Regions from separate parts of the Homo sapiens genome. Here regions 1 and 2 are each linked to region 3. Evidence: fine-mapped expression QTL. A gene starts in region 3. Each other region holds a variant in brackets. All regions are shown on one strand. Distances are from middle to middle.

What was found. PIP is the estimated chance that this variant, and not a neighbour inherited with it, causes the effect. A credible set is the group of variants that fine-mapping cannot tell apart.
Region 1: its variant is the best candidate, but not a certain one, in a credible set for the expression of ADAM10 in whole blood (INTERVAL, PIP 0.51).
Region 2: its variant is the best candidate, but not a certain one, in a credible set for the expression of ADAM10 in cerebellar hemisphere (GTEx, PIP 0.61).

The regions. Positions count from the first base shown.
Region 1 is chr15:58,687,112-58,689,875 of GRCh38, forward strand. The region is part of intron 2 of ADAM10 (ADAM metallopeptidase domain 10); the gene reads right to left. It also overlaps the pseudogene LOC100289060. Among named protein-coding and RNA genes, the nearest start is that of ADAM10, 61 kb to the right of the region's middle. The variant T/TTATA (reference allele first, on the strand shown) is at 1,655.
Region 2 is chr15:58,609,193-58,611,956 of GRCh38, forward strand. ADAM10 (ADAM metallopeptidase domain 10) reads right to left here. Exons shown (of 16, transcript NM_001110.4): 12 at 2,616-2,764; 13 at 1,807-1,915; 14 at 1,105-1,325. Among named protein-coding and RNA genes, the nearest start is that of LIPC-AS1, 110 kb to the left of the region's middle. The variant A/C (reference allele first, on the strand shown) is at 1,378.
Region 3 is chr15:58,748,482-58,751,245 of GRCh38, forward strand. It overlaps ADAM10 (ADAM metallopeptidase domain 10), which reads right to left and starts at 1,226. Exons shown (of 16, transcript NM_001110.4): 1 at 999-1,226. The coding sequence starts at 1,053. RefSeq lists enhancers at 359-994, 446-575, 1,666-1,845 and silencers at 686-975, 1,306-1,595.

The DNA of each region.
Region 1 (2,764 bases), 61 kb before region 3:
CAAATTGCTGGGAGGAAGAATAGGCTTTACTAATCAACTGATGTCTTGATTTTTCTAAATGGGAAGATTGTTTTATTTTTAACACTAATTATGGGAGCAGATTCTTAGCAAACTTGTTTGGAAAAGTTAATGTTATGATGTGCATTAGGCTGCCCCATCGTGTATATAAATGAAGCAGATTTGGTCTTTGTATTCTTACGTTCCTCTACTTTGTAGCTGTGGCTGTACTTAAAGAAATACAGAATTTCATATATTTAAAAATGTTTAAAATGTGACCCACAGAACATTGTAAATGATTAAAAACTAACATAAAAACATTACAACCTAAAAGAATTCTTAACTTCACAAGGGTTTTACTTTGATGATGTGAATCTGATTTAATTTGGGACACTTTTTTAGAAGGATACATTATTTGTGTTTGTAACAGTCTTTGAAGAGCTTGGAAATAAAATTTCTGCTTAATTAATCATAAAAAAAAAAAAGGCTCAAAAGGGTCAAGCTGATCCACAAGTTACTCAACTATCTAACAAACAAAACTCCATACTTTTTAAAAAAAAAATACGAACAGTTAAACTGTGGTATATCCATACAATAGGATAGAATTTAGTAATAAAAAGGAACAAACTATTGATAAACACAACAATTTGTACAAACTTCAAAAAAATTATGCTGAGTGGAAAAGTCAATCTCAAAGATACTACTTGCATAATACGATTCATGCGACAATCATGAAATAATCTAATTATGGAGATGGAGAACCAATTAATGGTTGTTTAGGATTATAGATGGGGGAGGGGATGAATGTGGCCATAAAGGGATAGCACAAGGGAGTCTGGTGATGCTACCATTGAGTATCTTTGATTGTAGGGATAATTACACAAGACTACCCATGTGACAAAATTGCACAGAATTATGCACAGGCACACACACATGCACGTACATGTAAAACTGATGAAACCCAAATAAACTCTATGCATTGTACCAATATCAATCTTGGTTTTGATGTTGTAATATAGTTATATAAATTGTGAACACTGAGGGAGACTGGGGGAAAGATGTCCAGGACTTCCCAGTAGAAGCTCCTGTGACTCTACAATTATTTTTAAATTAAAAGTTTTTTAAAAATCCAGACACAGGTGGGCACAGTGGCTCACACCTGTAGTCCCAGTATTTTGGGAGGGCAAGGTGGGAAGATTGCTTGAGCCCAGGAGTTTTCAATCAGCCTGGGCAATGTAGCAAGACTCCATCTCTAATTTTAAAAAAAACAAACAACGACAAAAAGACACTAAATATTAATCAAAATGTGAAATATCCAATTAAAAACCACAAACTATTAAAAAAAACAAGGGGTAAAAAAACCAAACCACTAACTATAAAGAAATGTGACAAAGAAGAAGAAAATTAGTCCCCCCCAAAAAAAGTGAGAATGAATGATAACGGAATTAGCAGACAAGGATTTAGTGATTTAGTGTCTATATATTGTAAATATGTTAAAGAATTATGGGGAAAATATAAGCACAATAAGGAGAAACCAAAAACTGTCGAAAGAGGGGAGGGAAGGGGAGGGACAGGGAAGAGAGGAGAGAGGGAAAGGAATGAGAGGGGAGGAAACTTCCAGAATTGGAAAATATAATTTCTAAAATGAAAAAAAAAA[T/TTATA]TATATATATATATATATATATCTCTCTCTCTCACTGGACTGACTTAAGAGCAGATGAGATACTGCAAGAAAGAATATCAGCGAACTTGAAGACAGGGTAACAAAAACTATCTAACTTGATGTACAGAGAGATAAAGAGTTTAAAAAAAAAAAACCCAGAGCCTCAGTAACCTATCAAACAGTAAATAAATAAAGAAGCGAGAGGAGACAGAAAAAAAAATTTGATAAAATGATAAAAAACTTCCAAACTGATAAAACTATAAACACAAGTCTAAGTAACTCAACAAACACCAAGAAAGATACACACAAAGAAAAACCCACAAAACACACCACAGTCACTGCTGAAAATCAGCGTTAAAGAGAAAATCTTAAAATCCATCAAAGAGACTGATTATATGCAGAGTGACTGCTGATTTAACATTAGAAATAATGCAAGCAGGCCGGGCGTGGTGGCTCACGCCTGTAATCCTAGCACTTTGGGAGGCCAAGGTGGGCAGATTGCCTTAGCTTAGGAGTTCGAGACCAGCCTGGGCAACATGGTGAAAGCCTGTCTCTACTAAAATACAAAAAATTAGCCGGGCATGGTGGTGTGCATCTGTAGTCCCAGCTACTCAGTAGGATGAGGCAGGAGAATTGCTTGAACCCAGGAGGCAGAGGTTGCAGTGAGCTGAGATCATGCCACTGCACTCCAACGTGGGCCACAGAGCAAGACTCTGTCTCCACAAAAATAATAATAATAATAATGCAAGCTAGAAATTATTGGAGTAACTTTTTTAATGCTGAAAGAAAAACAATGTCAATCCAAATTCTACAGCCAATAAAAAAGATCATTAAAAAATACATTGTCAATGAAGAATAAAAAAGAAAACATCATTCCAGTACTGCAGACATTGAGTGATAAAGTAATATTATGAGCATAATGAAAATAAATTCAATTACTTAGATAAAATAAACTCCTTAAAAGGTACAAATTATGAAAACTATCACAAAATATAGAAAATCTGAATAAGCCCCTATCTACTGAAGAAAATGAATTCATGATTTAAGGCCTTTCCACAAGAAAAATACCAGGGCCAGATGGTTCCCCTGATGTCCTATAAAACTATTTTA
Region 2 (2,764 bases), 140 kb before region 3:
ACCACGCAACAAGCACAGGAATTTAAAAAAAGAGTAACATGTTTTAAGGAAACCTAAGTTAAGTCAACTGCTCAAGTATTTGGTTTGAAACCTAGGTAGATCTCCTAAATCCAATTTCAACAATCCTTCTACTCCATGATCATTACATATCTAAAAACCACATATCCTAATGTGTCCTAGGAACGGTAAACATCATTTTAAATGCTGGGGTTAACTATAAAATTTTTACTCTAGAATGTTATTAGAAGAGTACAAAAAAGGCTGACATCCCACACAAACAACATCTTTTGTGCTTTAAGGCATCCATAGTTCTGAACACACACATACATACATACACACACACACACATACACACTAATTTGAGAAAGGGGAATGTGAGTTATAAGTCAATTTCCAAAGCAAACTACATTCAGTTCAATTATAGCACATTCTCAAATATATCATTTGCAAGCTTCCTATAGATATTTTAATGTTATCACTTTTAAAGCATGAACACTTAAGTTGAGATAGTCAATCTTGACAATCTTTTAAGAAAACATCAGGTAATTCTGTGTTTGTACAACTTGGAGATATGTGGGCTTAAAAATAAGCGTTCAGTGGATTACTGCTGGATGAACATCCATAATCATTAGTAGATCTACAAAAGGCTGTGTATCTGATCTTATTCTGTTCAACATTTCCTATTACAAACAAGATAAAGACCCAGAGATTATACTGAAAGATCAGGAAAAATCACCAATTAGTCCACGATTTGGGCAAATAAGTTGTCTTGAAAAACAACAAAAAAAAATGTTTTTTAAGTCCCATGAAAATGCCCTAATAATATGCACCAAAAGAAGTAACCCATCCAGGAGATGAACTAAGGAGCACGGTAAAACAGAATGACTCCCATCACCTACTAAGCAATCTATGAATGATACACATGATTCTGATCACTTCAGAAGGAAATAATAACCAGAAATATTAGAACTTTAAAAATCTTCATATAAAGTAATTCTAATATAAATAGTTAAGTTGTTTTCTCGTAACTTTGATGACTTCTGGCCAAGTAAAATTAAGATCAAACCACTTTAAGTTTTCTTTGTAAATAAAAAACATACTTACCACAATCCATTCAGCAATGTTTTCATAGAGCTCTGGACTAAAAATTGCTTTTTTAAGCCTAGCTAGAGGACCATCAGCATCTACTAATCTGCACCGCATGAAAACATCACAGTAACCTCTAAAATCGTTGCAAGGGGATCCAGGTTGCAGGGTGATGGTTCGACCACTGAAGTGCCTACTCCACTGCACAGACCCTGTACTGGCACAAGTTGATGGGTCCACTGGAAAAGAAATGCCAAATATAAGCTGAAGGTCAGATTCAAATATAAGTTG[A/C]AGATCAGATTTCCAGTTGTGCAAATACAAAGAGGGAAAAAAAACTGAAATCATTACCATAACATGTTATACAGACCTTCTCTAGTTAGGCTGGGTAACGCCATCAGTAATTCATATTAAATGTTACAATGTAAACAAGCAACCAGCAAGTCTTGACTCAGTGTCCACGATGACTTAAAGTCTAACAGTGTTTATGTAAATTACTGCTGTAAAGCTGGCAACGTTTTGTCTAGTTTATCATTTTTAAAACATTGTAGAGACCATAATAATAGAGACACAATGCTACGTTACATTTATAATCTCCTCAAGAGGACAGATTTAGCTGGAAATTATCTGGCCAAACTGTAGGTCAAAGTTTTACACTTAAAATTTAGGAGAAAATAATAGTTTGAGGCAAATTTTATACTCTTGTGTTTTTAAAAGCCTTACTTTTCTTCATACAGCATACATGGCATAATTCTTTATCATCTTTGCCATCAGAACTGGCACACGTACACTCCTCTAAGCCATATTTCTCACAGATAGAACCTGCACATTGCTAGAAGAAAAATAAAAGACAAATTGTTTAATCCCTATACAGTCAAACCTATTTTTTATAGTAACAGACAGGCAAGTATGAGCTTCCAATGTCAAAATATTTAAATGGAAATGAAAGTGAAAAACAAACAGAGATGAGTATCAAAACTGAATTACATAAATACATTTGAAAAAATTTGAAAAACAGTAAATCCAAGAAAGATAGTAAATCTTTTAAAGCAATGGCAACTTAAAAAAATGAAATAAAAGCAGAGCAAGAGATTAGATGAGGATCGATTTTATGTTGGTTATTACGGCTCTTCTATAAAGAAAGAAAAATTAAATTTTTTTCCTGTAGAGCAAAGTGATATTCAGCCACAAAAGCTTTGAAGGTTTGATATTCAGAGAAGATGACCAAAGAGTTCTTTTATTTAGGCTACTGAAATATTATTTTATAAAACTTAAATATTATAGACAAATCACATGCCGAGTTGTACAACTATGTTTCTCTAGAGAATATCAACCACATGTACATGGAAAGATGAAAGACAAATTAGTAGCTAATTGAATGCCACATAATATATTCATGGTTTTGTGAGGGAATATTACTTAAACAGAGACCAAGATTAATTACTTTAACTATGTAGCTTTAAGCATCAATAATTCTTCTGAAAAACAAGTTTTCTAAAATTAAATTTTAAAACATATAGTTAAATGCTTACCCCATTAATGCACACTTGTGTATGCCTATTACAGTCTGTGAAGTTTGGTTTAGGGTCAGATGCTGGGCAGAGAGCTGTGAAGCCATTACATATTCCTTCCCTTGCACAGTCTGAATCATCCCGACACTTCTCAGACTTTGACTTGAATG
Region 3 (2,764 bases):
TCCTAGAACACACCGGAAATAAAAATCGTTGTCTTCAAAACCCGAAACAAGAAATGACATGCTTTTAGCAAATTTGACTTTCATGTGCAGGGGGGAGGGGGCACTGTTTTGACAATCCACTAACTACACTGTACATCTACTCCACCTGAAAGTTTAACGAAACTCTTCAAGTTGGGTCACCCAGGGACCGAACTTCTACTCTAAGAGACCCAATCCAGCCTACAAATCAAAGAACATCCCCAAATGGTTTACCCTTCTCCCGACCAAACCCTTTCCCCTGGGCGACAGAATGTTTTCAAGAACACCAACACACCCTCCTGTGATCTCTCTCCAAACACAGGACACAGGAAGAACCGAGGCCACTAGTCTCAGATAAGCGGGTGATGACTGCTGCCACTCCACGGGCGGCCCCTCTGCAGAATGGGGTCGGTCAGGACCGGCGCGCCGGGTAAAGAACAATACACGAGCCCAGCTGCAAACAACACAACTTCCCACGAGTCTGCGCGGCGGGTCTCGGCGGCGGAGAGGACTTCGGAATCCGCCACCGGGCAGGGGCTGGGGGAGGAATGGTGAGCAGGATGAGCGCTGAACGAGGACGGCGAGACCGCCAGCCTCGCTGCGGCTGCCTGCACCGGCGCCCGCCGAGCAGACTGGAGGGATGCAGCCACCAGCCTGGGTTCCACCGCTCTCACCAGGCGACGCGGATGCCCCGACTTCGCTTCTCTGGGAGGCGACCCCCGCCTCCCGGGGCCGCCAGGGCGGTGGGGGGCGGGGAAGGCCTCGCCGGAGGCTTGGGAGCCTCCTCGGCCCGCCACCGAAGGGAAAGCGGTCGGGGCGCGGGGGACAATAGGGAGCGGGGAGCGCGGCCCGCCAGAGTGGCGCCGCTGGCCGGCTGGGCTGACTGACGCGCACGCCGCGAGGCGCGACTGGGCTCCGCTCGGCCCGGCCGCCGCTCCGCCGTGGTCGCGGCGCCCCCGGCGCTCGCAGTCGTGCCTCACCTCCCATCCCCGCCGCCCAGGAGAGGAGCAGAATTAACACTCTCAGCAACACCATCTTCCGCTGCCGCTGCCGCCGCCGCCGCCTCCTCACGGGTTAACAGCAGCACATCGATCCGGAGGGAGAAGCTGAAGGGGCTTGGTCCGGAGCCTCCACGGGAAGCCGGGACCTCCCCTGGCAGGAGAAACGGCGAAGCACCTCCCTCTCGCTCCACTTCAGGGGCCGGCAACGCTCCTAGCTCCTCCAAAACAGGGACCTCCCTCCCCCTCGTTCGTTTCCTTCCTCCTTTCCCCGCTTTCCTTCCCTTGCTCGTTCCCTCTTCTCTCCCCCCCTCCTTCGAAACTCAGACCTCCGCCTCCTTCCTCACCACGTGACGCGCGGGCACCCAACTGGCACGCGGAGCCGCGCCCCTACCTCCCGCCCCTACCCGTCCCCCAGGCGCTTCAGGGGCGCGCGCATGCGCGCGGGGGACGGTTCCCGTGCTGCTAGGCCTGCCGCCGCTTCCTGTCCGCCGGCGGAGAGCTGGGATTGGGCTTGGGAGGCGGGGTTTGTCCTGGTCCCGCCCCGGGGCGGGAGCGCTCCTACGCGGAGATAGTGCTCCGCTACGTGTTAGAGCTGCTGAGGACCTTCCCTTGGGCTAAAATGGTCCGTGGAAGATGTAAGCAGGGCTGCTTTCGACTTCTTAACGTCACAAGTAACAGAGGTTTTTTTTCTTCTTTTTCTGCCTCTCTTGGTGCACCACAGCTACCAAGTAAACAAAAAGTCCCAACAAGCAGTAATTATAGCGGCAGCTGCCCCAGTGATGCGAACATAAATGCAAAGACCTTCAAGCAGCAGGAAAAAAAGACACCATGTCCGAGATGTAATTTTCCGAGCTCTTTACAAATTTATGTCACAGACTAAGGCTTTAGCCTTTGCAAAAGCATGCAACCTGAACCAGACTGTCTTGAATCTCCAGTCCAGAAAATGTCCTCTTTTCTCTCTGTCACATCTTTGAAGCGAATCCACGCACATCTTCTCCCCAACTTCTTAAAGCTTGTGTTTGTTTTCTCGTAACTCATTTTGATTCTTTAAACTTGGATGTCATGAACTAGAACTTTTTATGGCCATTTAATTAGATATTCTTCATCTATTTGGTATCGTGCTTGAGTAGGCCGAATTAGGGAGAGTGTGTGTGTGCGTGTGTGTGTGTGTGTATGTGTAAATTGTTTTGTTTTGCTTTCTAAAGACAAGGTCTCCGCTGTCTCGCCAGGCTGAAGTGCAGTGGTGTGATCATAGCTCACTGTAACCTCCAACTCAAGCCGAATTAGGGAGAGTGTGTGTGTGTGTGTGTGTGTGTAAATTGTTTTGTTTTGCTTTCTAAAGACAAGGTATCCGCTGTCTCGCCAGGCTGAAGTGCAGTGGTGTGATCATAGCTCACTGTAACCTCCAACTCAAGCGATCCTCCCGCCTCGGCCTCCCACAAGTGCTGGGATTACAGGCGTGAGCCACTGCGCTCGGCCTTAATGTTATTGATACTGTAATAAACTGGAATTCCTATACTGTTACCTGTATATTTTATACCATTTATTACCATTAACATAAGTGAAGAGAATTTTTTTTTTTTTGAGACGGAGTTTCGCTCTCGTTGCCCAGGCTGGGGTGCAATGGTGTGATCTCGACTCACCGCAACCTCTGCCTCCCAGGTTCAAGCGATTCTCCTGCCTCAGCCTCCCAAGTTGCTGAGATTACAGGCATGCACCACCACGCCCAGCAAATTTTTTGTATT